7 linked regions of the Homo sapiens genome follow. The protein of the gene in region 4 purifies or fractionates together with the protein of the main gene of each other region. This does not show direct contact. Each region holds a gene or a part of one and is shown on either strand. Other genes may lie near its edges.

What was found.
Region 1: the proteins of INAVA (region 4) and PPP2R3A purify together in Homo sapiens (co-immunoprecipitation; one large-scale study listed by IntAct). This does not show direct contact.
Region 2: the proteins of INAVA (region 4) and PPP2R3B purify together in Homo sapiens (affinity purification with mass spectrometry; 2 studies listed by BioGRID and IntAct, with this or other methods). This does not show direct contact.
Region 3: the proteins of INAVA (region 4) and SMARCA1 purify together in Homo sapiens (affinity purification with mass spectrometry; one large-scale study listed by BioGRID and IntAct). This does not show direct contact.
Region 5: the proteins of INAVA (region 4) and CRTAP purify together in Homo sapiens (affinity purification with mass spectrometry; 2 studies listed by BioGRID and IntAct, with this or other methods). This does not show direct contact.
Region 6: the proteins of INAVA (region 4) and ACTR10 purify together in Homo sapiens (affinity purification with mass spectrometry; 2 studies listed by BioGRID and IntAct, with this or other methods). This does not show direct contact.
Region 7: the proteins of INAVA (region 4) and HHIPL1 purify together in Homo sapiens (co-immunoprecipitation; one large-scale study listed by IntAct). This does not show direct contact.

Annotation. Positions count from the first base shown.
Region 1 is NC_000003.12:136,105,228-136,108,727, reverse strand, and holds part of PPP2R3A (serine/threonine-protein phosphatase 2A regulatory subunit B'' subunit alpha), read right to left. Parts: intron 2,513-3,500; coding exon 2,406-2,512; intron 1-2,405. UniProt on the Homo sapiens protein: The B regulatory subunit might modulate substrate selectivity and catalytic activity, and might also direct the localization of the catalytic enzyme to a particular subcellular compartment.
Region 2 is NC_000023.11:338,408-341,907, reverse strand, and holds part of PPP2R3B (serine/threonine-protein phosphatase 2A regulatory subunit B'' subunit beta), read left to right. Parts: coding exon 1-25; intron 26-511; coding exon 512-601; intron 602-967; coding exon 968-1,143; intron 1,144-3,011; coding exon 3,012-3,130; intron 3,131-3,197; coding exon 3,198-3,304; intron 3,305-3,500. UniProt on the Homo sapiens protein: The B regulatory subunit might modulate substrate selectivity and catalytic activity, and might also direct the localization of the catalytic enzyme to a particular subcellular compartment.
Region 3 is NC_000023.11:129,464,491-129,467,990, reverse strand, and holds part of SMARCA1 (SWI/SNF-related matrix-associated actin-dependent regulator of chromatin subfamily A member 1), read left to right. Parts: intron 1-2,028; coding exon 2,029-2,147; intron 2,148-2,258; coding exon 2,259-2,471; intron 2,472-3,500.
Region 4 is NC_000001.11:200,908,400-200,911,899, reverse strand, and holds part of INAVA (innate immunity activator protein), read right to left. Parts: intron 3,171-3,500; coding exon 2,960-3,170; intron 2,677-2,959; coding exon 2,503-2,676; intron 448-2,502; coding exon 1-447. UniProt on the Homo sapiens protein: Expressed in peripheral macrophages and intestinal myeloid-derived cells, is required for optimal PRR (pattern recognition receptor)-induced signaling, cytokine secretion, and bacterial clearance.
Region 5 is NC_000003.12:33,120,514-33,124,013, reverse strand, and holds part of CRTAP (cartilage-associated protein isoform 1 precursor), read right to left. Parts: intron 1-3,500. UniProt on the Homo sapiens protein: Necessary for efficient 3-hydroxylation of fibrillar collagen prolyl residues.
Region 6 is NC_000014.9:58,217,149-58,220,648, reverse strand, and holds part of ACTR10 (actin-related protein 10), read right to left. Parts: intron 956-3,500; coding exon 920-955; intron 1-919. UniProt on the Homo sapiens protein: Part of the dynactin complex that activates the molecular motor dynein for ultra-processive transport along microtubules.
Region 7 is NC_000014.9:99,648,129-99,651,628, reverse strand, and holds part of HHIPL1 (HHIP-like protein 1 isoform a precursor), read right to left. Parts: intron 1-3,500.

The sequences.
Region 1 (3,500 bases), on a different chromosome or scaffold from region 4:
TTGAATTTTTAAAACTGGAAAAAAAAAACCCAATGATAAACCTTTATTCATCCTTGAGTTCTAGTAAATTCACAATGCAAATCTGGGGTCCATCACTATTCATTATCAGTATTTCCTGGATATGGCGTGATTTCTGACCTTTCCTATTCAGGTTTTCTTTTATTTCAAAAAAGCTTTCCTATTGTCTTTTAATATACTTTACTATTTCATATATTCTTTTGTCTAAAACACATAAATAAGATCCCATTTGCTTTCCTTACCTATACCTAATTTTCTTTTGGATACTTTTTTTGTTTCTTTTCTATTACATTTTACTTGATCTTTCATAGTCTTCTTCCTCATCCCGTTTTTCCTAATTAAAGTCCAGAAGTACACATCCACAAAATGATTTTAATGCTTAATGGAACTGTACTGGGTACATGTAGTATAATTTTATTAATCTTCCCATTAGATACCTAGATTGCCTCCAAATTTTCACTATTATAAACATCCACACTTGCTGTGTGTGTGTGTGTCAGGGTCTAGCTAGCTCTGCAGGCCAGGCTGGAGTGCAATGGCATAATCTCAGCTCACTGCAGCCTCTGCCTCCCATACTCAAGTGATCCTCCCACCTCAGCCTCCTGAGTAGCTGGGACTACAGGCACACACCATCACACCTGGCTAACTTTTGTATTTTTTGTAGAGATGGGGTTTCGCCACATTGCCCAGGCTGGTCTCGAACTCCTGGGCTCAAGTGATCTGTTTGCCTCAGCCTCCCAAAGTGCTGGGATTACAGCCATGAGTGACTGCGCCTGGCCAATCCACACATATTCTTAACTGCAGCATTGTTGCTTCTTAAGATTGGTATGCTAACCCTAATTCCTAGTATGGAAGCTCAATGCCAAAAAAACCTTTAAATCATGCTTGTGAATCCATTTTCCTATATTCTGATGCAGTCAGGCTTAAGATACTGAGTGCACGATGAATGATTTTAAGGGTTTCCAGGTCACTGCCATAAAAATGAAATCCTAGTTTTGTGGCTAAGCAGGTTAAAGAAATCTCTCAGTGAAAGAAAGCTCTTTGCTGATGGCTTGTTCAGCACCCTCAAAAAAGATAATATTTAATGAATGGTAGAGGTATAAAATGGTACAATCTATATTGAGGACTATTTGACTTTATCTATGGGGCTGGATAGTTTCTGTTTATCCCTCTAGACCTGCTCTTCCTCTATCTCTATGCCTCAGGAGGCTGACCTGAATGGACCACATCAGAGACCACATTTGAGACTGTCTCAAAAAAAAAAAAAAAAAAAAAAAAGAATTCATGTATCTTTCTAAATATACATAGATAGGTGGAGAGAGAGGCTCTTTGGAAGAGTAAGCAAGAACATGATGACACTTGTTGCTTCTGGGGAGGAGAAGTGGGTAGTAGGAAACTTTTTACTATTTCTTTTGTTTCTTTGAATATTATATGAATAGTGCCTGTTCAAAAAGTACACTACATTAATGAGAAAGATTAATTGAGGCCTTTACAGAAGCTATGACTAAGGAAGAATTAGAAGAATTACAAAAGGAGTTACTAGAAGATGATGGAAAAAACCAGCAAATTATAAAGTTGCTGAAGTGATCCAAGGAGTCAAATTCTTGGATAATTAAATTTCTTAACATGGTCCCTTTATGGAATTATGCCCTGACTAGTAGAAATACATGTAGAAGTTACTTCCTGCACAAAACCATGTATAATAAAGATTTGTTCTAAACATGATCATCTTTATTATTATTGAAGGAGCTTTAGTTTTTTTTTTTTTTTTTTTTTTTTTTTTGGAGACGGAGTTTTGCTCTTGTTGCCCAAGCTGGAGTGCAATGGCATGATCTCGGCTCACTGCAACCTCTGCCTCCCGGGTAAAAGCCGATTCTCCTGCCTCAGCCTTCCAAGTAGCTGGGATTACAGGCATGCACCACCATACCCGGCTAATTTTTTTGTATTTTTAGTGGAGACAGGGTTTCTCCATGTTGGTCAGGCTGGTTTCAAACTCCCGACCTCTGGTTATCCACCCGCCTCGGCCTCCCAAAGTGCTGAGATTACAGGCGTGAGCCACCGTGCCCGGCCAGAGCTTTAGTTCTTTTAGCCTCCTCCTTTATGTACAGGGTTTATCAATATCACTAAAACAGTAGTTTGATTGTTCAGTGATCTCGGTTTCCAGTGAAAGATGAGACTCATTAAAGGAAATGGACATGAGAAGACTCTGTCAGGAAATGAGTGAAGATTGCTGGAAAAAATAATCATTTAACTAAAGTTGGCTAAATCACATTTTTATGCTATTCAAAAATGGAAAAAACAGAAAAGGATTTTGTAAGGGGGTTTTAATACTCTGGACATGCGCATTCCTGTTAAAAATTCTATAAGACATAGGGAAACTTACTCACCCTTCCTGGAATTGTGCTTGGGCAGATTCCTCTGCAACAAGCGTCTCATACTCCTCAGCGGCAAACCGGTCCCAGTCTGAGGGCTCAGGCCCATCGTTCTCAACATCCTGATTGGAAAGAAGACAGCCACGAGAAATAAAAAAAATCAAAGACAAAGAATTGGAGATAGATCATCACACAAATGTATACTGCTGAAAAAATCCTACCTGAAAAATGTTTCATTTCAACAGGTTTAAAAGAGGTGCTAAGGTAAAACTCCTAAGGTAATTTTCTACACCTCAAATGGCAAAATTATAACTGTTTAGCAGCCAGGTTTTTTAGGTATAGATTCCATTTTTTTCTTTTTTCTTTTTTTTTCTTTTTGAGATAGAATCTCACTCTGTCACCCAGGCTGGAGTATAGTGGCACGATCTCGGCTCACTGCAGCCTCTGCCTCCTGGGTTCAAGCAATTCTCCTGCCTCAGCCTCCCAAGTAGCTGGGACTACAGGCAAGTACCACCACGTCCAGCTAATTTTTGTATTTTGTAGAGACAGGGTTTCGCCATGTTGGCCAGGCTGGTCTCGAACTCCTGACCTCAGGTGATCTGCCCGCCTCAGCGTCCCAAAGTGCTGGGATTACAGGTGTGAGCCACCGTGGCTGGCTGATTCCAACTCTTTTTTTTAAAAGAGATAGGGTCTCACTCTGTTGCCTAGTCTGGAGTGCAGTGGTGCACCAATAGCTTACTGCTAACCTCAGAATCTGGGCTCAAGTGATTCTCCTGCCTCAGCCTACTGAGTAGCTGAGACTACAGGCATTCCACCTACTAAGTAGTTGAGAATGCAGGCATACCACCATGCCCTGCTAATTTTAAAATTTTTTTGTAGACACAGGGGCTCACTATGTTGCCCAGGCTGGTCTTGAACCCCTGGCCTCAAGTGATCCTCCCGTCTTAGCTTCCTAAGTAGCTGGGATTACAAGCACAAGCCATAGCACCTGGTAAGTCTACTCTTTAGCCTTGTAATCAGAGACATTTCTCTGGTCCCCTCTCCTCTGGCACTTTGCACAGCAGCCACCTGGAGTGACTTGTGGTTTGCCACAGGCCCGCCTGAAATGTA
Region 2 (3,500 bases), on a different chromosome or scaffold from region 4:
GGATCTTCTCAGGAGCAGTCACACGGTACGTACGGCTCAGGCGCCTGACGGCAGCCATTGCCCCTGCGAGGACCCCGGTCCCTCTCCTCATCGTTGCCTGACGTGAGCTTTTTGTGCCCCGACAGCGAGTGGTTGTCACCCCAGGCCCTGGCGAGGGGGGCACGTGTCTCTGTCACGTGAATCCCTAGTGGGGGGGGGTGGCACAAGACTGTCACGCGAAGTCTGAGGAAGGGGGTGGCCCAGGCCCCAGGTCGGGGGTTCTTGTCGGGCGCTGGGCCTGAGTGAGCAGTAACGAAGGTGCACTCCTGACCCTGCCTGGATCTGGGGAAAACCCTCTGGCCACGGGGCCTCCACCTCCTCCCCGGAGAGGCAGGAGGAGGGGCAGGAGGGGGGCAGGAGGAGGGCCGGGCCCGGGGGGCTCCCCTCACCGAGGCGCGTGGACAGGGGCTCCGTTCCTGTGAAGCTCTCCCTGACATGCATCTTCGTCTCTCCATCCTGGCTTTCGATCTAGAGGCAGAAAAGTGCAGAAGGAAGGGAAGATCAGCTATGCCGACTTTGTCTGGTTTTTGATCTCTGAGGAAGACAAAAAAACACCGACCAGGTGGGTTCCTGCTGCGGCATGCGTTTGTCCCAGTGGAGGGGCCGGGAGCCGCCCATGTGACATGTGTCCCCAGGCGGATGCCTGCACGCCTGGTGGGGGCTGCACGGCACAGGGGGACATGTGCACGCCCGGTGGGGGCTGCACGGCACAGGGGGACATGTGCACGCCTGGTGGGGGCTGCACGGCACAGGGGGACGCGTGCGCGCCCGGTGGGGGCGGCAGGGGGCAGGGGATGCCTGCACGCCCGGTGGGGGCTGCAAGGCACAGCGGGGACGCGTGCACCCCCGGTGGGGGCTGCCTCAGGGGCTGCAGGTCACGGGCTGGGAGGGCCCAGGGCAGGGGCTGACAGAGCTCGCCGTGCCGCAGCATCGAGTACTGGTTCCGCTGCATGGACCTGGACGGGGACGGCGCCCTGTCCATGTTCGAGCTCGAGTACTTCTACGAGGAGCAGTGCCGAAGGCTGGACAGCATGGCCATCGAGGCCCTGCCCTTCCAGGACTGCCTCTGCCAGATGCTGGACCTGGTCAAGCCGAGGACTGAAGGTGATGCCCCGTGAGGGCATGGCCCAGGGTGAGGGGACGGACGGGCGAGAGGACGGCCCAGGGTGAGGGGACGGACGGGCGAGAGGACGGCCCAGGGAGAGGGGACGGATGACAGCCCAGGGAGAGGGGACGGACGGGAGGGAGGACGGCCCAGGGAGAGGGGACGGACGGGAGGGAGGACGGCCCAGGGTGAGGGGACGGACGGGAGGGGGGACGGCCCAGGGTGAGGGGACGGACGGGAGGGGGGACGGCCCAGGGTGAGGGGACGGACGGGAGGGGGGACGGCCCAGGGTGAGGGGACAGACGGGAGGGGGGACGGACCAGGGTGAGGGGACGTCCCTGTGAGGCGCTGTCCTACTGAGTTTGTGAGGAGGGCCAGCACCACAGGTGCCTAGTCTCACAGTGCAAGAACCTCCTATTCGGGGCGTCGACACCCCCCGAGGGGTGACCTAGAGAACCTAGGGCCGGAGCTCACCGGGGACGTTGGCACTGGGCTGAGGGAGCAGTTGCCACGTTCGTGCTGATGCCGCACAAGGCGGTCCTCCCCTCACCCCCCCCCCCCCCGTCTCCTCCCCTCTCACCCCGCCCCCCCCGTCTCCTCCCTTCTCACCCCCCCCGGCTCCTCCCCCCCTCTCGCCCCCCCCATCTCCTCCCCTCTCACCCCCCCCATCTCCTCCCCTCTCACCCCCCCATCTCCTCCCCTCTCACCCCCCCCATCTCCTCCCCTCTCACCCCCCCCATCTCCTCCCCTCTCACCCCCCCCATCTCCTCCCCTCTCACCCCCCCGGCTCCTCCCCTCTCACCCCCCCGGCTCCTCCCCTCTCACCCCCCCGGCTCCTCCCCTCTCACCCCCCCCAGCTCCTCCCCTCTCACCCCCCCCCGGCTCCTCCCCTCTCACCCCCCCCCGGCTCCTCCCCTCTCACCCCCCCCCGGCTCCTCCCCTCTCACCCCCTCCGGCTCCTCCCTTCTCACCCCCCCCGGCTCCTCCCCTCTCACCCCCCCCGGCTCCTCCCCTCTCACCCCCCCCGGCTCCTCCCCTCTCACCCCCCCCCCGGCTCCTCCCCTCTCACCCCCCCCCGGCTCCTCCCCTCTCACCCCCCCCCGGCTCCTCCCCTCTCACCCCCCCGGCTCCTCCCCTCTCACCCCCCCGGCTCCTCCCCTCTCATCCCCCCCCGGCTCCTCCCCTCTCACCCCCCCCGGCTCCTCCCCTCTCACCCCCCCCCGGCTCCTCCCCTCTCACCCCCCCCGGCTCCTCCCCTCTCACCCCCCCGGCTCCTCCCCTCTCACCCCCCCCCGGCTCCTCCCCTCACCCCTGTTCCCCCCACACCATCTCCCCAGCTCCTCCCACCCACCCCCGTGCCCTCTAAGGCAAAGGGGAGCCCCACCGTCCACGCCGCCTGGCTTCCTTCTGCATCTCAGAATCCAGCTCTGGGACTTTCACTTTGGAAATGGCTCTGAGGCCCGGGCACCGCCCTGCAGCCCTGCCCCCCCCGGCCATGGGGCGCCTCCTGCTGCTCAGTGTCCCCGGGACACCCTCTGGCCTCTGCCTGCACGGGGAGCTCCGTTCTCTGTAATTTCAGATCCAGCAGCGCCCCTGCTGGCCGCGCCTCCCTGCGCTAGTCCCAGTCCACGCATCCTTGGGGCACCGGTGGCCCCTAGTCGCCTCCGCATCACGGCCTCCCACGCCTCAGTCCCCACCCAGAACCAGGACACTCGCGTGTCCGCCTTTCACGTCAAACACGTGGCGTGAGAGCCCGGAGCTTCGTGCCGCGTCCTTAAGCACGTGTGACAGGACGCGCGCACCCCACACCCAGGCCCCGAAGGTGAGACCGGGCTCACGCGCCTTGGACGCACTCCCCTCCCCGCAGGGAAGATCACGCTGCAGGACCTGAAGCGCTGCAAGCTGGCTAACGTCTTCTTCGACACCTTCTTCAACATCGAGAAGTACCTCGACCACGAGCAGAAAGAGCAGATCTCCCTGCTCAGGGTGAGTGCGGCGGGCACGCGGGCCGGGCCGCGCCACGCCGTGTACGTAACCCGTGTGCTTCCTCCAGGACGGTGACAGCGGCGGCCCCGAGCTCTCGGACTGGGAGAAGTACGCGGCCGAGGAGTACGACATCCTGGTGGCCGAGGAGACTGCGGGAGAGCCCTGGGAGGACGGGTGAGTGGGGAGGACGGGTGAGTGGGGGGACGGGTCAGTGGGAGGACGGGTGAGTGGGGAGGACGGGTGAGTGGGAGGACGGGTGTGTGTGCAGCCGGGGGATGCGGGGTCAGTCAGGTGGGGTGCGCGGACACAGAGGGGCGGGGTGAGACCTGACACGGGGCCGGTGAGGTAAGGACAGCCGATGACAGGGCCG
Region 3 (3,500 bases), on a different chromosome or scaffold from region 4:
TATATGTAGTACATGGGACTTTTCTAACTTCCAAATAGGTTCAGCTCTTAAACTTATCATTTGAAACAAGATGTTTAGAATCTAGAGCATTTTTTGTCATTGAAACAATGGCAAAGTAGGTTTAAGTTTACAAAGTAGGTTTAAGTTTCTATGATAGCCCCTGCCCCAAATCTATTTAACCCTACCACTGAAATTCTGTTTTTGCAATAGTAGGAAAGAAACATTACAGTACCAATAAATATACTAAAGATTAATAATAGCTAGGAACAGCTTTTAATTTATCTAGCATGCTAGTGCTTGAAGAAATCCAGATTTAATTAGAGAGATTTTTTTTTCTTCTGGAAATCTAAAAGAGTCTTCTGGGGGACTTCAGAGGTCAGTTGTATTGAGTTTTTATTACATATAATATAACATTAAGTATATGAACTTCCTTTTCCTTCATACCAGCATGATATTACTATTACTCTGAACATTTAGCACATAAATTTAGGGCATTTGGAGGCTTAGGGGAAAAAATAGATTGAAGAGAGAAATTTTAGCATCAAGAGTTGAATGAAAAGAATGTAAAAGGGTATGTGCAGAGAGATTTTTAAGAAGAATTTTTTTCAGAAGATAGGCAGGGAGATAACATCGGTGTATGTGAAGTTGCAAGAAAAAAATGTGATTTAAAAAGATGATCCTGTCAGACTTTCTTTCAAATTTGACACCAAGCCAGGTGGCATGACTAGCTCAGGACTATTTAATTGCTGCCTGCCAGGTTGGGGGCCATGTCACAGGGTGAGGAGATTGCAATGAGTTTGTTGTAGTTGGTTACAGTAAGAGAAGAAATGTGTACAATTGACCACCCATGAATATACAGTATCCTGTACATAGCAAGTGTTTAAATATTTGTTGAATGAATATGTGAGTGAATGAGTAAATGAACACAGGTGCTTATAAAAATCAGAGTGCTCACATACCTTTCTTGATAGGCTCTAAAAATGAAAAGCTTGAGGATGTGGAGTATGTCATTAAAAGGCCTTTCATTGAAGTCATGTGACATATTAATACAGCCAGATTATTTGGCTCATCTATAAAATTTGGTTGAGTGACTTGGAATGTTTTTCAGTGTGTATGCAATTAAAATCCCAATGAGGTTTTTTTTTTTTTTTTTATGAGAAAAGGGTATTCCAAGTAAGTTTAAAAACACACTACTGGTCATTGGAAATACCGTAAGATGATTAGTGAGTGATTCCAAAAGCAAATGACAATTTCAAGAGAAATGGCTGCTCCATAGAAAAAAATTTGAACAACCTGTTCATAATAGCTTGGGTTTTTTGTTTATTTGTTTGTTTTTGAGATGGAGTCTCACTTAATCGCCCAGGCTGGAGTGCAGTGGCGCGATCTCGGCTCACTGCAACCTCCACTTTCCGGGTTCAAGCAATTCTCCCGCCTCAGCTTCCCGAGTAGCTGCGATTACAGGCACGCACCACCATGTGCAGCTAATTTTTGTATTTTTAGTAGAGATGAGGTTTCACCATGTTGGCCAGGCTGGTCTCAAACTCCCAACCTCAGGCAATCTGCCCACCTCAGCCTCCCAAAGTGCTGGGATTACAGTGTGAGCCACTGTGCCTGGCCCATAATTGTTTTCGCATGCTAGGAAGCTATATTCACTGTTTATATATTACTCTCTCCTGTGTCACTTTATGTGTTTGGTCCCTTTTCTATCATGTTTGAGTAAAAAGCCTAGCTTAAATCAGTATCTGCATCATCTTTTGAAATCCTAGTCATTTGGGATGGATCGTAAGACTCCGTACTATTTCATGAAGGAAAATTGCTAACCTAAAACCTTGTTTTGAGGTCTTATTTTTAAGTGAAAAGTTAGTAGTATTTAATAATTTAACATATTATATATATAAGATTAATCTGAATCTTAATTTTAAGAAGTACAAGCTCATTGTATTCTTTCCTATTAATTCCTTATTCTACAATTCCTTGGATTTATTTGCTTAAATGATAGGATTTTAAAGAAATAACTCTGTTTTTCAGCTGTATTTTGGGAACGTTGCAATGAATTACAGGACATTGAGAAAATTATGGCTCAAATTGAACGTGGAGAAGCAAGAATTCAACGAAGGATCAGTATCAAGAAAGCCCTGGATGCCAAAGTACTATGTTTTATGTCAAATTATTATTAGATCGTTTTAATTGAAATAGTGGTCAGCTTTGACTTCTTACTGCACATTCAATTAAAAGCACTATTTTGTTTAAATACACAGATTGCAAGATACAAGGCTCCATTTCATCAGTTGCGCATTCAGTATGGAACCAGCAAAGGAAAGAACTATACTGAGGAAGAAGATAGATTCTTGATTTGTATGTTACACAAAATGGGCTTTGATAGAGAAAATGTATATGAAGAATTAAGACAGTGTGTACGAAATGCTCCCCAGTTTAGATTTGACTGGTTTATCAAGTCTAGGACTGCCATGGTATGTATTCCTTTCTTACCGATTTCCTCCAACTTTTTATTTTGAAAAATTTCAGATGCCATATATCCTTCACCTAGATTCTCCAATTAACATTTTGACACATTGGCGCTCTCTCTTTCTCTCTCTCTGTGTGTATGTGTATACATACGTAGCACCTATATATACGTGCAGAATCTATATTTTGTATTAAAAAATACGGGGACATCTATATTCTATATTCTGAAATGCGTATCTATATTTTATAAGTATACTTAACTATATTTATGAACCATTTGAAAATTACAGACAATGTGAGTGTTCATCTCTAAATACTTAAGCATGTATCTCCTAAGAATAATGACATTTTCTTACATAACCACAATCCCACCTGAAAACATTGATTCAGTAATGTCATTTAGTATACAGTCTATGTATAAGCTTTTCCAGTTGCCCCCAAAATGCCCCCTTTATAGCTGTTTTTTTTAAAATTGATGATCCTGCAAGTTTCACACATTACATTTCGTTGTTGGGTCTCTTTAATCTCTTTTAATCCACAACCTTTTGGTTTTCGTGATCATGACTTTTTAAAGGTGTCCAGGCTAGTTGTCTTGTAGAATGTCCCACATTGTGGATTTACCTCATTACTCATTGTAAGATTCAGGTTCAACGTATTTGGCAAGAGTGCTGTGGAAGTGATGTTATGTATTTTTTATTGCATCCCATCAGAAGGCACATTATGTCATGTTGTCACACTGTTGGTGATGCTAAGTTTGGTCACTTGTTAATGTGATGATCTTCAGAGCTCTCCGCTTTAGAGTTATGTTTTCCCCTTTGTAATTAAGCAGGTTATGCTTGAGACTATGCGAATGACTTAAAGATGGACTTTTAATGAAAAGGAGTTGTTGCCTAAGTTGAGTTTTTTATTAGGAAACAGAATATTTAAGTTGAAGAGATATTTTATTTTAGCTTATGTGATTTCCTCCATTACTTTCTAATGTGAATTGTGTTCCTATTCTAGTCCTACTTAGCAGTGGTGTTCATGATGATTTT
Region 4 (3,500 bases):
CGCAGGGGAGTGCCCTCCTCCTCGTAAGCAGGGCCCGGGGCTGCGCGGCGCAGCTCCCACTCGCCAGGCGGCAGGGGGCTCTCAGCCACCACCACGTACCGCCCCGCCGGGAAATAGCCAGGCGGCAGCAGTAGCTTGGGGTGGTGGGCGACCAGCTCTCTGCTGCCGGCTGGGACCCAGGCCCCGCGGTGACGATGGGTCTTGGGAGGGGAGAGAGGCTGCAGAAAGGAGATGTCGGGGCTGCTGCTGCCCGGCGAAGTGGGGTGGGAGATGCTGGAGACGTCAGAGCCACTGTCTTCTGAGCAGGAGTGGCAGGCGGCGTGGGGCAGCGGGGGCTTGGTCGCGGGAAAGCAGGAATCTGGCACTGTCACCGTGTAGTGAGTGGGGCGGCGGCGGGGAAAGGCGCTGCGACCTCGGCCCTCAGGACCCGCCCGGAAGGAATCCACCCTGAAGAGGGAAAGAGAGGCATTCTGAGTGTGGGGGGCAGAAACTCCACACTGGGGTTGGGGCGGGAGGTGGAGTTAAAACAGGTGAGTCCTGCTCTACCTCAAGGCCCAAGCATGGCCCTCGTGCAAGGGTCTTAGGTCAAGTCTCCCAAAGCAAACCAACAAACCCTCTGCCGGGCTGCGTGGGTGCCAACGCATTCCTTCCCTGTGTGCAAAAGTGTTCCTGCTGCATTCACAAGCTTGTGATTCGTGTAAAGTGTGCTACATCAAGTAGCACATTAAGTACTTTTTTTAAAGTACTACATTAAGTACTTTTTTTAAAGTACTACATTAAGTACTTTTTTAAAGTACTACATTAAGTACTTTTTTTAAAGTACTACATTAACTACTTTTTTTAAAGTACTACATTAACTACTTTTTTTAAAGTACTACATTAAGTACTTTCAGCTTAGGTACACCGTGTCCAGTGGCAGATCATCCACAGCATCTGTTCGGTAGGCACTGCCAGGTACCTTACTTGAACGTGTAAAAGCTGTCATGTGGTACCCAGAGCAGTTACCTGCAGCCCAAGACCGGCAGGGGCTGAAATCCAGCCTTCACTTCACTCTACTAATGCACCCAGGTATGGGGCTGTGTCTGCCTTTTCCTAATTTGCACAAAGGCATGGTTTGTAAAATGGCCCTCGTAGCATGTAAAATATAAAATCTATTGCTGTGTGGTGGCGGACGCCTGTAATCCTAGCTACTCAGGAGGCTGAGGCAGGAGAATCGCTTGAACCTGAGAGGCGGAGGTTGCAGTGAGCAAAGATTGCGCCACTATACTCTAGGCTGGATGACAGAGCAAGACTCTGCCTCAAAAAAAATTTAAAAATTAAACAAAATCCATTGCTTTACTTGAGAGCAGTTGTCCCAAGCTGCCCCCAGTTCAGTGCTGCCTGACCAGCCAATTTAAGCTGATGGAGAATTCAGCAGTGCTTTCATGGTGCCCCAGTCCCCATATGGTATGGCCAATACTGCCTGTCAACGCTTAGCCATTTAAACTATTACCAAGTAGCAGATGACTTAGAAAGTAACATACAGTCAATTCTCATTATTTGCAGATTCAGTATTTGTAATTTTCCTAGTTGCTAAACTTTATTTTTAATCCCCAAAGCAATATACACAGTGCTTTCATGGTCATTCTTGGACACTGCAGAAAAGTGACAAATTTGAGTCTCTTTAAGTTCTGAGGTTAAACGAGGCCATGTTCTGCCCTCATGTTTCAGTTCTCATGCTGTAAGTGCACAGTGTCCTTTTTGTGGCATATTTATGTACTGTGTGTGTTTTTGCTTTGATTAGTGATTCTGCTGTTTAAAATGCCCCCAAATACAGTGCCAAAGTGCTGTCTACTGTTCCTCCCTAAGGCATACTGGGAAAAGGCTGTGGTGTGCCTTGTGGAGAAAATATGTGTGCTAGGTAAGCTTCATCTGGGTATGAGTTACAGTGCTGTTGGCCATGAGTTAATGAATCAACAACCCATATTAAGTAAGGTGTCCTTAAGCAGAAACTCACATAACATAAGGTTATATATTAATCAGTTGATGCAAAATGTCGTGACCAAAGGCTCACGGGAACCTAACCCTATATTTCCCCAGGGGCAAGGGTTCAGTATTTGCTAATTCAGGATTTGCGTCAATTTTACTTTATAGAACATAACTACCACAGATAATGAGAATCAACTGTGCATCAATTGAAAAAGTGAGTTGCCTATTGTCAGTGACCAATAATAATCTACCAGCACAAGGAAACATGGCAAGGGTAGAAAATTTGAATCAAGTTATGCAAAAAGACAAAACTAGAGTCTTTGGAAGAAAACCACTTGCTTCATGGATGGCCTTTGGCTTAGTGGGGTGCAGTGCATTCTCTGTCAAGAGGCGCCCCAAGAAGAGATCCTAAGAGAAGTCAAGGCACTAGCCATGTGTCACCCAGGGTTGTCCCACCTGTGTCCTGGGAGCTCCCACCCTCCAACGATAAGCTCTAAGTGGGTCCCCCATCTCTCTGGGGAAGCTGTCTCTTACCTCAGAGACTGCGACTGGCCCCTCCTCCCCTGTATCTCAGGGGTGGCTGGGGCACTGGTGCGGCCCTGCCACTGGCCAGGAACACCACGGATGGGAACCACGTGGTAGGAGGCAGGCTCCAGAAGCCACAGGCTGGAGGCACTGGGCCCATCCTGTGGTGTGGTGGCTGGGCTGCTGCAAAAGGATTAGAGACAGGTCAGTGGCAGGAATGCCTCCATTCAGGGGCTCAAGAGGTGCAGAAGAATGGGGATGCAGTGGAAGGGGCTCCCAAAGTTAGTAGGGCAAACTGCCAGCACCCTTGGGGAACTATCAAGGCTCACACCTCCATCCCACGACTGCAGGAGCTCTCTCCTCCACCTTTCCACTTTTCCATCTGCCCAGCCTATAGCCATCCCCAGCATAGCTCCCACCGACTCCCTGCCCTGCCCTGCCCTTCTCCCTTCCCCCTGATCCTGACCTGGACTCGCTCCAGGGCTCAGAAGACTTCCTGGGCTTCTCATAGGGGTGGTCCAGGCTGGTTTCCTTCCAGGGGCTGTTCTGGACTGGAGCCCGTTCTGGGCTCCCAGCCTCAGGTCCTGTTGGCTGCAGACCCTCAAGGGTTTGGGGTGGGAGAGGCCGAGAAGGTGGGGCTGGAGACTCTGGAGGAGGTTTTGGCACTTGGGATTCCTCTGCAGGAGTAAAAGAAACCTGGTAAGGCCAGAGGCTGGGGGAACCGGCCCAACAAGAACCTCCACAAACCACAGCCCATGCCTCGCCGCTCTCCCTCCCATGCTGGCTTGTGCAGCTGCTGCAGGCCATGGCTCCAGCCCTAGATGCTCAAACATGTTTTCTTCTCCTTTGGGACTTACTTCTTCCCACACAGCCCTATTTTATGCCTTCCTCCTTCAAGAAGCCTCCCAGATTGACTCTCTTGGGCTTACAGTGCTCCACTTTCTAACCTTTGTTCCTGGTACCATGTCTGCAGTTATCTTTTGTTTACCTATTTTTCTTGTTCCTGC
Region 5 (3,500 bases), on a different chromosome or scaffold from region 4:
GGACTGGATGTATTTGTCAAAACTTACTGCATTATACACTTAAAATTGATAAATATATTGTATATAAATAGTACCTCAATAAAACTGGTTTTTAAAATGGAACGAAAAGAAAAATGTAAGTTTGAGAGCAGGTATATTAGTCTGTTCTCACATTGCTATAAAGAAATACCTCTAGCATGGCCAATATAGGGAAACCCCATCTGTACTAAAAATATAGAAATTACCAGGTGTAGTCACATGCTTGTAGTCCCAGCTACTCACGAGGCTGAGGCACAAGAATCACTTGAACCTAGGAGGCGGAGGTGGCAGTAAGCTGAGATTGTGCCACTGTACTCCAGCCTGGGTGACAGAGCGAGACTCTGTCAAAAAAAAAAAAAAAAAAAAAAAACCGAGACTGGGTAATTTATAAATAAAAGAGGTTTAATTGGTTCATGGTTCTGCAGGCTATACAGGAAGCATAGCAGCTTCTGCTTCTGGGGAGGCCTCAGGAAACTTACAATCACGGCAGAAGGCAAACAGGGAGCCGGCACTTCACATGGCCAGAGAAGAAGGAAGAGAGCGGGGAGGTGTTACACACTTTTAAACAACTAGGTCTCATGATAACTCACTCACTATCATGAGAATGGCACAGAGAGGATGGTGCTAAACCATTAATAAAGGATCCACTCCCATGATCCAATCACCTCCCACCAGGCCCCACCTCCAACCCTGGGGATTACAACTGGACATGAGATTTAGGTGGAGACACAGATCCAAACCATATCAGCAGGTGTCTGTCACCCCACTTCCTCCGACAATGCAGTTAAACAGAAGTGCCACCATGCATCAGCACTAGTTACTAGGAAGGGCAACCACATGCCAGATAGTGGAAACTTCAAGGACTTTCTGCTAATTGTTGATTAGACTCGATTAGAAGAGAAATAACAGGAGGCTGAGGCAGGAGAATCATTTGAACCCAGGAGGTGGAGGTTGCAGTAAGCCAAGATCGTGCCGTTGCACTGCAGCCTGGGCAACAGGGCGAGACTTCATCTCAAAAAAAAAAGAGAGAGAGAAATAAACTAGGACCAAGGAAGTAGCTTGGTCTCCAAGAAATAAGTAGAGATCCTGGATACACACAAAACCTGCTAACTTGCAGAGGCCAGGACAGGCCCTGAATAAGCATGGGACCCTCCATTTGGAGTTCTCAGCTGCTCTGGAATGGTGGTATCTGAGGGCACCCCTTAGACCTAGAATTTTCACCAAGCTTAAGGCCTCAGGTAAAGACAGTGGATTTTCTTCTTCTTTTTTTTTTTTTTTTTTTTTTTGAGACAGAGTCTTGCTCTGTTGCCCAGGCTCGAATGCAGTGGTGCAATCTCAGCTCACTGCAACCTCCAACTCCTGGGTTCAGGCAATTCTCTCTGCCTCAGTCTCCCGAGTAGCTAGGATTACAGGTGCCTGCCACCACGCCTGGCTAATTTTTTTGTATTTTTAGTAGAGACAGGGTTTCACCATCTTGCCCCAGCTGGTCTTGAACTCCTGACCTCGTGATCCACCCACCTTGGCCTCCCAAAGTGCTGGGATTACAGGCATGAGGACCGCGCCTGGCCGAGGGTGGATTTTCTTAAACCTCCTGGGCAGGCCACATGCCCTGGAAATAAGACAGGCTGAGAACTGAAGGAGCCTTTCCTGAAGAATGGGTCAATAAGTAGCCAACTCCAGACAGCTGGTTCTGCAGAAGCAGCGGGGCAGCAGCAGCAGCAAGAAGGACCAAGCAGAAAGAGGAGGCCCCTGATCACACAGGAGGGCAGCACAGCCACCCCAAAAGGGCTCCAGTGAGGGCCAACAGGACTAGCTGAATTCCAGATAAGCCCAGGGCACTGACCACACGCACTCGGCTTCGTTCCCCAAACCCTATGAAAACAACAGTGAAGACTATGAAAGGCATAAATTGCTTTTATGGGAGAATGGGAAGGGAGCAAGCAGCAGATGAGATTTCAACAACTTTTGGAAAGGCAGGAAGTGAAATAGTCACAAAGGAGGGGCCAGAGGGGAAGCAAGCTATATGTCCCATTGGCATGCGCAGGCATGAGGGACCACGGGAGGCTGGGGTAAGGCATGGAGCTAGAAGCAGGGCTGCAAGTTTGAACAGGCTGTTGGGGTCCTGGGTCCGCTCCCAGCACCTACCCACCCACCCAAGAGATCATATCTCCCAAAGCCACTCTTCACCAGAGAGTGGCAGTTTATTCTAGAGACTTTACCCATAAAGGCTGAGGAGTCAGGGACCAGACGTAGCAGAGGCCAAGTGGAGGCATGAGGCTAAAATCAGGAAGCAGGTGAAGTATTCCTACTCACCTGGGTGACCCTGTCCCTCTCCCCACACTGGTTCTCAGACACCAGCAGAGGAGTATGCGCACCCCACCAGCCCTGCAGAAGGCTGGTGAAGTCTTCCCTGGAAAACTGACAGATACCCCCAAAAAGAGACTTCCACACATACATTTTCCCTAGCAGTCAAAAAGTGAGCCTGAGATCTGATCACTCTACAGAAAACCCTGTGGTCAGGCCTTGGGAACTATAACTTCTAGTGGATATTTTCCACATATCCCCATTTTCTTTCATTTTTTTTGAGACAGAGTCTCGCTCTGTCGCCCAGGCTGGAGTGCAGTGGCGCAATCTCAGCTCATTGCAACCTCTGTCTCCCGGGATGAAGTGATTCTCCTGCCTCAGCCTCTCGAGTAGCTGGGTTTACAGACATGCTGAGTCACCACGCCCAGCTAATTTTTGTATTTTTAGTAGAGACGGGGTTTCACCATATTGGCCAGGCTGGTCTCAAACTCCTGACCTCAGGTGATCCATCCGCCTCGGCCTCCCAAAGTGCTGGGATTACAGGCATGAGCCACTGTGCCCAGCCAAATTCCCATTTTCAACAATGCCCTGCCCTTGCTTGAAACCCAGGCCCCCAGTGCCTGAGTTCCAGAAGACCTTGACAATAGTGAGTGCTCAAAAGGGCGAGATCGTTCTTTCTTATTGTTGTTCTTACGACTAATTCTCATCAAAACTCTTCTTCGTAGATGCGCAGATTTAAGTGTCCTCTACTCTGTCACATCAGCCTTCCTAACTCGTCTTCATTTTCTACCTTAATATATTTAGGGTGCGTTTGTGTGCAAGTGTGTATAAAAATATATGCCTTCTCATTTCATCAAAACTGGAGATTTATGTTTCTATTTCTTGTGTTCCTGGTCATTTTAGATGATTTCCAAGATATGTCTTTAATCTACCCTCTTAAAACTAAATAATTAAATGACCATATTTCTAAAATGTAGCATTTAAAGGGAACATGGCTTTTAAAATCATCACGGCATACAAAATATCATTATTAAATGGATCACTTTGTGCTAAAAGTCAATCATTTCTATTGTCATAATATTCAGCAAATGTCACCAAAAATCACTAGAGGTCCTTAGCTATCAGCAGCTGCTTATGGAGAGACATTTCTTTAACAGTCCAGGTTGCCACTAACTGCC
Region 6 (3,500 bases), on a different chromosome or scaffold from region 4:
AGGTTGGAGGTCATATGAAAAGAAAACACTCCACATGGTCAACAACTGTTATATCACGGAGGATAGAAATGGAAGAGAGGAAAGGAAACCATTTTACCTGAGATATTTCTGTATTATTTGAACTACTGTAATAAGCATTACAAATGATTGAAATTTTATAACAATTGAAAAGAATTTAGGTAATTAAAACACATAAAAAATAATAGGTAATATAATGGAAAGCAAGATCTATTTTGTAGCCTGAGCTCTAACCCTACCTACTTGTGTGACACTGGACAAATAACATTTCACAGCCCCAACTGTATTAGATTATCTCCAGCTCTCATTTAACTCTAAAATCCATTACTGTCTATCTATTAAACATCCTAAATTATTAACATTAATGACATGCCAAGTATTGAAGATTATATTTTAAATGTATTTTATTTTAGTGAATAAAAATACCAGAAAACCCAATTTGAACTTTATCATAGAAATTCACCCTAGCAAAGTAGAAGCAATAAATCTCACTTAGGTGAAAACAATGTACTGTGTAGTACTTTGGTCACAATTCCGGAAGTTCTTAGAAAAATGTATAAAGAAAACTAGAGTAAAAAACATTATACTACATCAAACCAGTAGCTTTCTTAAGCAATTTAACTGTTCTTTCACACTGCAAAATACTAGTTCCCTGGTAACCCTGTATACTCTGTATACAATTGAGAAGCTGCTTCAGTAACACATCATCACTATGCCACAGCTTCCCTAAGTGTGAAAAAAAAGTGGAATTTGTACTTAGAGTATCCCATAACCTATATATTAAATACTTTTAGGATATTACATTATGAATATATTTTCTATCTGTGTAAATGTTTAGAAGCATATGCCCTCCAAAGTAACACTTAAGGATGAAAGGGACAAAAATGAGAACTTAGTTTACCTTTAATGTCCTCTAAGACACCTTCCGGAACTGAACCTAAAACAAATATTTCATTTAGAATTATAAAACTTTAATAATTAAAAACAGTCTATTAAATTGCCTTCACATTTCTATTTTTCAATTTAGAAAAAATTTTAAAAATACAACTACTATAATTTTCTCAAAAAGTCTAACAGAAAAATTTAATTTTGTTTTAGGGAAGAAATATCATCATTCAAAGCCAAGACAAACCATGGAAATTGAAGCAAAAAATTGAAGTTTCAAGTTTATCTTTCTGGTGATAATAAATAGTTGTCAGTAATGTGCTAACATATTTTTAAAAAGTACCACACACAATCTTTTAATCTTGTCCTTCAAGGTAAAGGTGACATTTAAAAAACAACTGAGAAAGTACTTATTCATTCTTTTTTGAATTAGGTTCTAAATACTAAATGAAAGAGGCTCATTCAAAGTTCAGCTAAAGATACCAAGTATATCTACCTTCATGCAATACAGGGAGCCTTTGGTTTGGATATATTACCATTGTTATAAAATTTTGTTGCCAAAAATCTGTCTCAGAAACAAAATTTTCTAACTTAAAGTCTTCGAAACTAAGAATTTTTAACTTTGGGGCCAGGCGCAGTGGCTCACGCCTGTAATCCCAGCGCTATGGAAGGCCAAGGTGGGCCGATCACCTGAGGTCGGGAGTTCAAGACCAGCCTGACCAACATGGAGAAACCTCGTCTCTACTAAAAATACAAAAAGCTGGGTGTGGTGGTGCATGCCTGTAATCCCAGCTACTCAGGAGAATGAGGCAGGAGAATCGCTTGAACTCGGGAGGAGTTTGGGGTAAGCCAAGATCATGCCATTGCACTCCAGCCTGGGCAAAAAGAGTGAAACTCCGTCTCAAAAAATAATAATAATAATAATTTTTAACCCATTGTAAAATATGTAAAAATATTTTCATTGATTTATAAGAATAAATTATTGATATCAGGGAAGATAGACATCTATAGCTGAAAAATAAATCATTATTTAATAAGCATAATTATGGCCTTCTTCCACCTGGATCTACATTTGTTGTCAACTATAACTTTCAGTTCTGAGAGCCATTAAAATTAGGTAAACTTAGAAACCACACCATTAAAATGTTAAGCCATAATTTTTAAAAAAAAGCATATTTAATATTTAATTATATTGCAAAAGATTTTTATCTTTAGTAAGTATAAGTTTAGAATTATTTATTATTTTACCTTTATTATCTCATCCTTTCCAAAGGCTTACTTTTGTGTTTCATAATATAGTAACAATAGTACATATATGGTGTATAAATAAACAGACATACTAAAGATAACATGTTCGAAGTTTTATTTTACCTGTGGGGCCAGTACATGATAAAAAATTTTTGAAGATTTCCTATCTTTAAGTGTTAAAATCAAGAGGATAAAGATATGCCAGAAGATTTAATCCTGATTATAAATAGATGAGAGAAATGTAACTTGACTGTAAGAACCTGCAATTTAAAAATAAGTGCTAAAACCTACAGCATTCCACAACTTCAATGCTCTCTCTTGGAACATTTATATAAATTTTAACATGTCAAAGAACTTTGGTAATATGAGAAACTGTTTTCTTTAGGCAAATGTAAGGCAGGCCTGGAAATAAAGAGTTTAATTTAGCTAAGAGTAGATGCTGCTTTGGGAAGGAGCTCCTTAATCATAAGGGGCAAATAATTATAACTATTTAAATTTTGCAAGTAAAGACTAGAAACAAGAGGCATTCCCTGGCTCTGGCTCTAAAAAAAATGCTTACATTTCAGTTAGGAAAATAAGAAGCATAACATATTGGTATATAATTTAAACTGTACATTTTTCCAATCAGTGTACTTAGGTTAGCCTTTTTGAGTTACTATGATATATTCATTCTTTTTTAAACTAAGTTCTAAACACTAAATGAAAGAGGCTCATTCAAAATTCACTTAAGAATACTCAAGCATATCTCAGACTTGCATATAATCTTTGCTAAGAACCTGGAAAAGAGACATTTTAAATTTGTTTGCATTTCTTTTTCTTTTTTTTTTTTTTTGAGACGGAGTCTCCCTCTGTCACCCAGGTTGGAGTGCAATGGCTCGATCTCGGCTCACTGCAATCTCCGCCTCCCAGGTTCAAGCGATTCTCCTGCCTCAGCCTCCCGAGTAGCTGGGATTACAGGATTAGCCACCATGCCCAGCTAATTTTTTTTTTTATGTAGAAACAGGGTTTCACCATATTGGTCAGGCTGGTCTCGAACTCTTGACCTCAAGTGACCCACTCACCTTGGCGTCCCAAAGTGCTGGGATTACAGGCGTGAGCCACCGTGCCCAGCCGTATTTGCATTTCTGATCCTACTAAGTGGGTGCTTCAGCAAATATTTGTATGATTTGATTCCACAATTTTGTAGGACTGCATGGCTATCACAGACTCAGATTGTGAGTATTAAAAGGAAAGGTTAGAATCAGTACAAGGTTGACTAGAAAAAGAATATCCAAGAATGTATCGTTTATAATTTTATGGAAATATTATTGGGTTTAAAGACCTTTACAAAGAACATCTTGGGATGCTAC
Region 7 (3,500 bases), on a different chromosome or scaffold from region 4:
TGTAGAATTGTAACCCCCAGTGTTGGAGGAGGAGCCTGGTGGGAGGTGACTGGATCACGGGGCGGAGTTCTCACGCATGGTTTAGTTTAGTACCATCTCCCCTTGGTACTGTAGAGCGAGTGAGTTCTCATTAGATTTGGTTGTTTTAAAGTGTGCCCCCACACCATCTCTCTCTTGCTGCTGCTGTCGTCATGAGACATGCCGCCTCCCCTTTACTTTCCACCATGATTGTAAGTTTCCTGAGAACGCCCCAGAAACAGAGGCCACTATCCTTCCTATACATCCTGCAGAACTGTGAGCCCATTAAACCTCTTTTCTTTATAAATTACCCAGTTTTGTTTTGTTTTGTTTTGTGTTTGTCCGTTAGTTTTTTTGAGACAGGGTCTCTCTTTCTCTCTGTCACCAAGGCTGGAATACAGTGGCACCATCTCAGCTCACTGCAATGTCTGCCTCCTGGGCTCAAGAGATGCTCCTGCCTCAGCCTCCTGAGTAGCTGGGACTACAGGCGAGAGCCACCACGCCTAGCTAATTTTTGTATTTTTTGTAGAGATGGGGTTTTGCCATGTTGCCCAGGATGCTCTCGAACTCCTGAGCTCAAGCCATCTTCCCGCTTCAGCCTCCCATAGTGCTGAGATTACAGGCGTGAGCAACTGCACCCAGCCAGGTATTTCTTTATAGCGATGAGAGAAGAGACTAATACATACTCCCTGCCATTTCACACCTCTGAGCCTCAGCACAGGCTGTTCCCTTTGCAGGCATGCCCTTTCCCTGCTCTTCTCTGGCAGGCAGAATTCTCTTTATTCTTAAATCATGGCCATGGCCGTGGGGGAAGCCATGCTAACCAATCACAGCAGCTCCTGGGGTTTGGGGCAAATTGTGGACCAGGCACCAGGGCAGTGTGCCCATGAATCTGCATTTCCTCCTCAAGGCAACCATGGGAGGGAGGCCTGTTCTTATTACCACTGCACAGAGGTGGAAGCAGAGACAGCAGAAGGGAGCCCAAAGTATCATGTCACATGCCAGTGGGCTGGGGTTTGAGCCACGTCTGCTCAGCTCTACTGGCCAGCTCCCAACTACCCATCCCCAACGCCAGTTAAGTGTCCCCACACCACAGCACCCTCCCTGCACCCTACCCCTACAGCTCCAGGCTGTCTGCGGGCCTCCCTGTTAGAGCCGCCGGCCTGTGGCGTGGTCATTCTTTCTATCTGTGACTGACACCCTCCCCCACCTGTGAGTCCACCAGGCCAAGCCTGGGTCTGAGTCAGCTCTGGGCCCCCAGAGCTTCGGGGGATGCTCCTTCTGCAGTGGGGAGGTACTGACAGCCACACACTCCCTCCCCTCACAGGGAGGACCAGGCTGGGTTCCAGCAAGAGGCCTCTGGGACGTTTGGGGGAGGATTGGGGATGGGGGATGGCAGGCTGCCTCCCGGGGTGTTCTCAAGCCCCAGGCCAGGGCCCACTCACTCCTGTGACATGATTGTGGCTTTTGGTCATACCACAGCATGTCCTCCTGGCCCCTCTACTGCTGTGAGGCTAGGTCTCACCTGACTGGCCAAGGGCCACTTGGCAGAATGTCTTGGGGTCCTGGTCAGTTACTGTCCCAGGTACAGACCAGGGTGCCATGTCTTACATGCTCCCCTCTGCCAGTGAGCAGGCCAGATGGCCAGGCCTCAGGCCGCCGTGTGTGCTGTCCCTCCCATGGTTCACTGGGAACCACCTGTGGGTCAGCCGGCAGCTGCACGTGGACCAGGGAGGGGCTGTGTGCACACGTGCCTTCTTTCATCTCTGCAAGGTAGGGTCATTGTCACTATTTTATTTTATTTGTTTATTTTTTGAGACAGGGACTCTCTCTGTCATCCAGGCTAGAGTGCAGTGGCACAATCCTAGCTCACTGTAGCCTTGACCTCCTGGGCTCTAACGATCCTCCCCACCTCAGCCTCCAGAGTAGCTGGAACCACAGACGTGCTCTACCACACCCGGCTAATTTTCATTTTTATTTTTTGCAGAGACAGGGTCTCTCTATGCTTCCCAGGCTTGTCTTGAACTCCTGGGCTCAAGCAATCCTCCCGCCTTGGCCCGCCAAAGTTCTGGGATTATAGGCATGAGCCACCGTACACGGCTTGACTCCTATTTTATAGATGAGGAACTGAGACTTAAAGAAGGCCACGTGCCAAGAAGTAGCCAAACCAGGGCTCACACCCAAGCCTCATGATGCCTGGACTGGTGTTCTTTCCAGATTAGTCAGCAACATTTCATTCACCAAGAATTTACTGAGCAGAGATTGTACCAGGCACCATCTTGGTTCCAGAGACGCAGTGAGGGGCAGAACAGACATCTGGAAGGCAACGAGAGCCCTCCGTTCACCAAAGCCCAATCCAGAACTACAGAGGGAGCAAAAGTTCCCTCAGGGAGCCAGGCCGAAGACCTCGGCATCCGTGCGTCCCAATCACACAGCAGATGCTTCCTCGTGGCCTATGTACTCTTACTTACACACGACGTAAATGTGGTGCCCAGACCAGGGTAGTCCAGAGCTAGGAAGTGACAAGAAGACATAGTGATTGCTGCTGGCAAGAGGATGATCCGCAGCTTGGCCTCAGTGTGTTTAGGGGCAGGTGGCAGGAAGGCCATAGGAAACCAGCCCAGTATCGCAGGCTTCAGCCGCCCGGGCCATTCAGTGCAGGGCGGAGGGCCCCCATCTTGCCCAGAGTTTGCCACCCCCATGTCACTGACACTCGTGACTCATGGCCCTGGGTCCTGAAGGTTTCTTATGTCCACCGTTCATTTTTTGAAAGAGCAAGCCTTTGCACAGTGTCCTGTCCATCGGATATTTGCTTCTCACCTACTTCCTCATCTGGCAAACTGCTATTCATGACTCAAGGCCTACTCAAAGGTCTCCTCTTGTCCTCCATGCTCCCAGGGCTCTGACTGTCCCATCCCTGGCCCTTATGGATGCTCCCAATGCACTCTGTCCATATCTCAGACACGACACTCACTCCATTGAATCTTGTAGCTTACAGGGTGAGTTCTCTACAGCAGTCACTGCTCCGTCGCCAGGGGCGCTCCAGCCAGTCAGCTTGGCTAGGACTTCATTATCTCTTTGCATGTCTGTCCACTCCACGGACTGTGGGACACAGTGGGGCTTCAAGGAGGGAGGCAGTGTGGCAAAGCGGTTAGGAGAATGGCTTTGGAGCCAGCGCACACATTCCCCATGGGGAATGCTCCTTAACCTCTTACTGCTCTTAACCGTGGGCAAGCTCCTTAACCTCTCTGTGCCTATGTCCTCATCTGTGGAAGGGGAAAGGAATTCCAACCTCATAGAGTTGTTGGGAGGAACAAATGGAGAAGATGTATGTGTTTGTTCAGTAAATAATGAGCTATCAACATGCAACCAACATTCAGGAAGCCTTCCCTGAGGTATGTGGCCTTGTTCCTACACTCCTTGAGGAATTTCTGGCACCTTCCTGTGTGTGTCAGTCTCCTGAAGTGATGAAGGGGATTTTT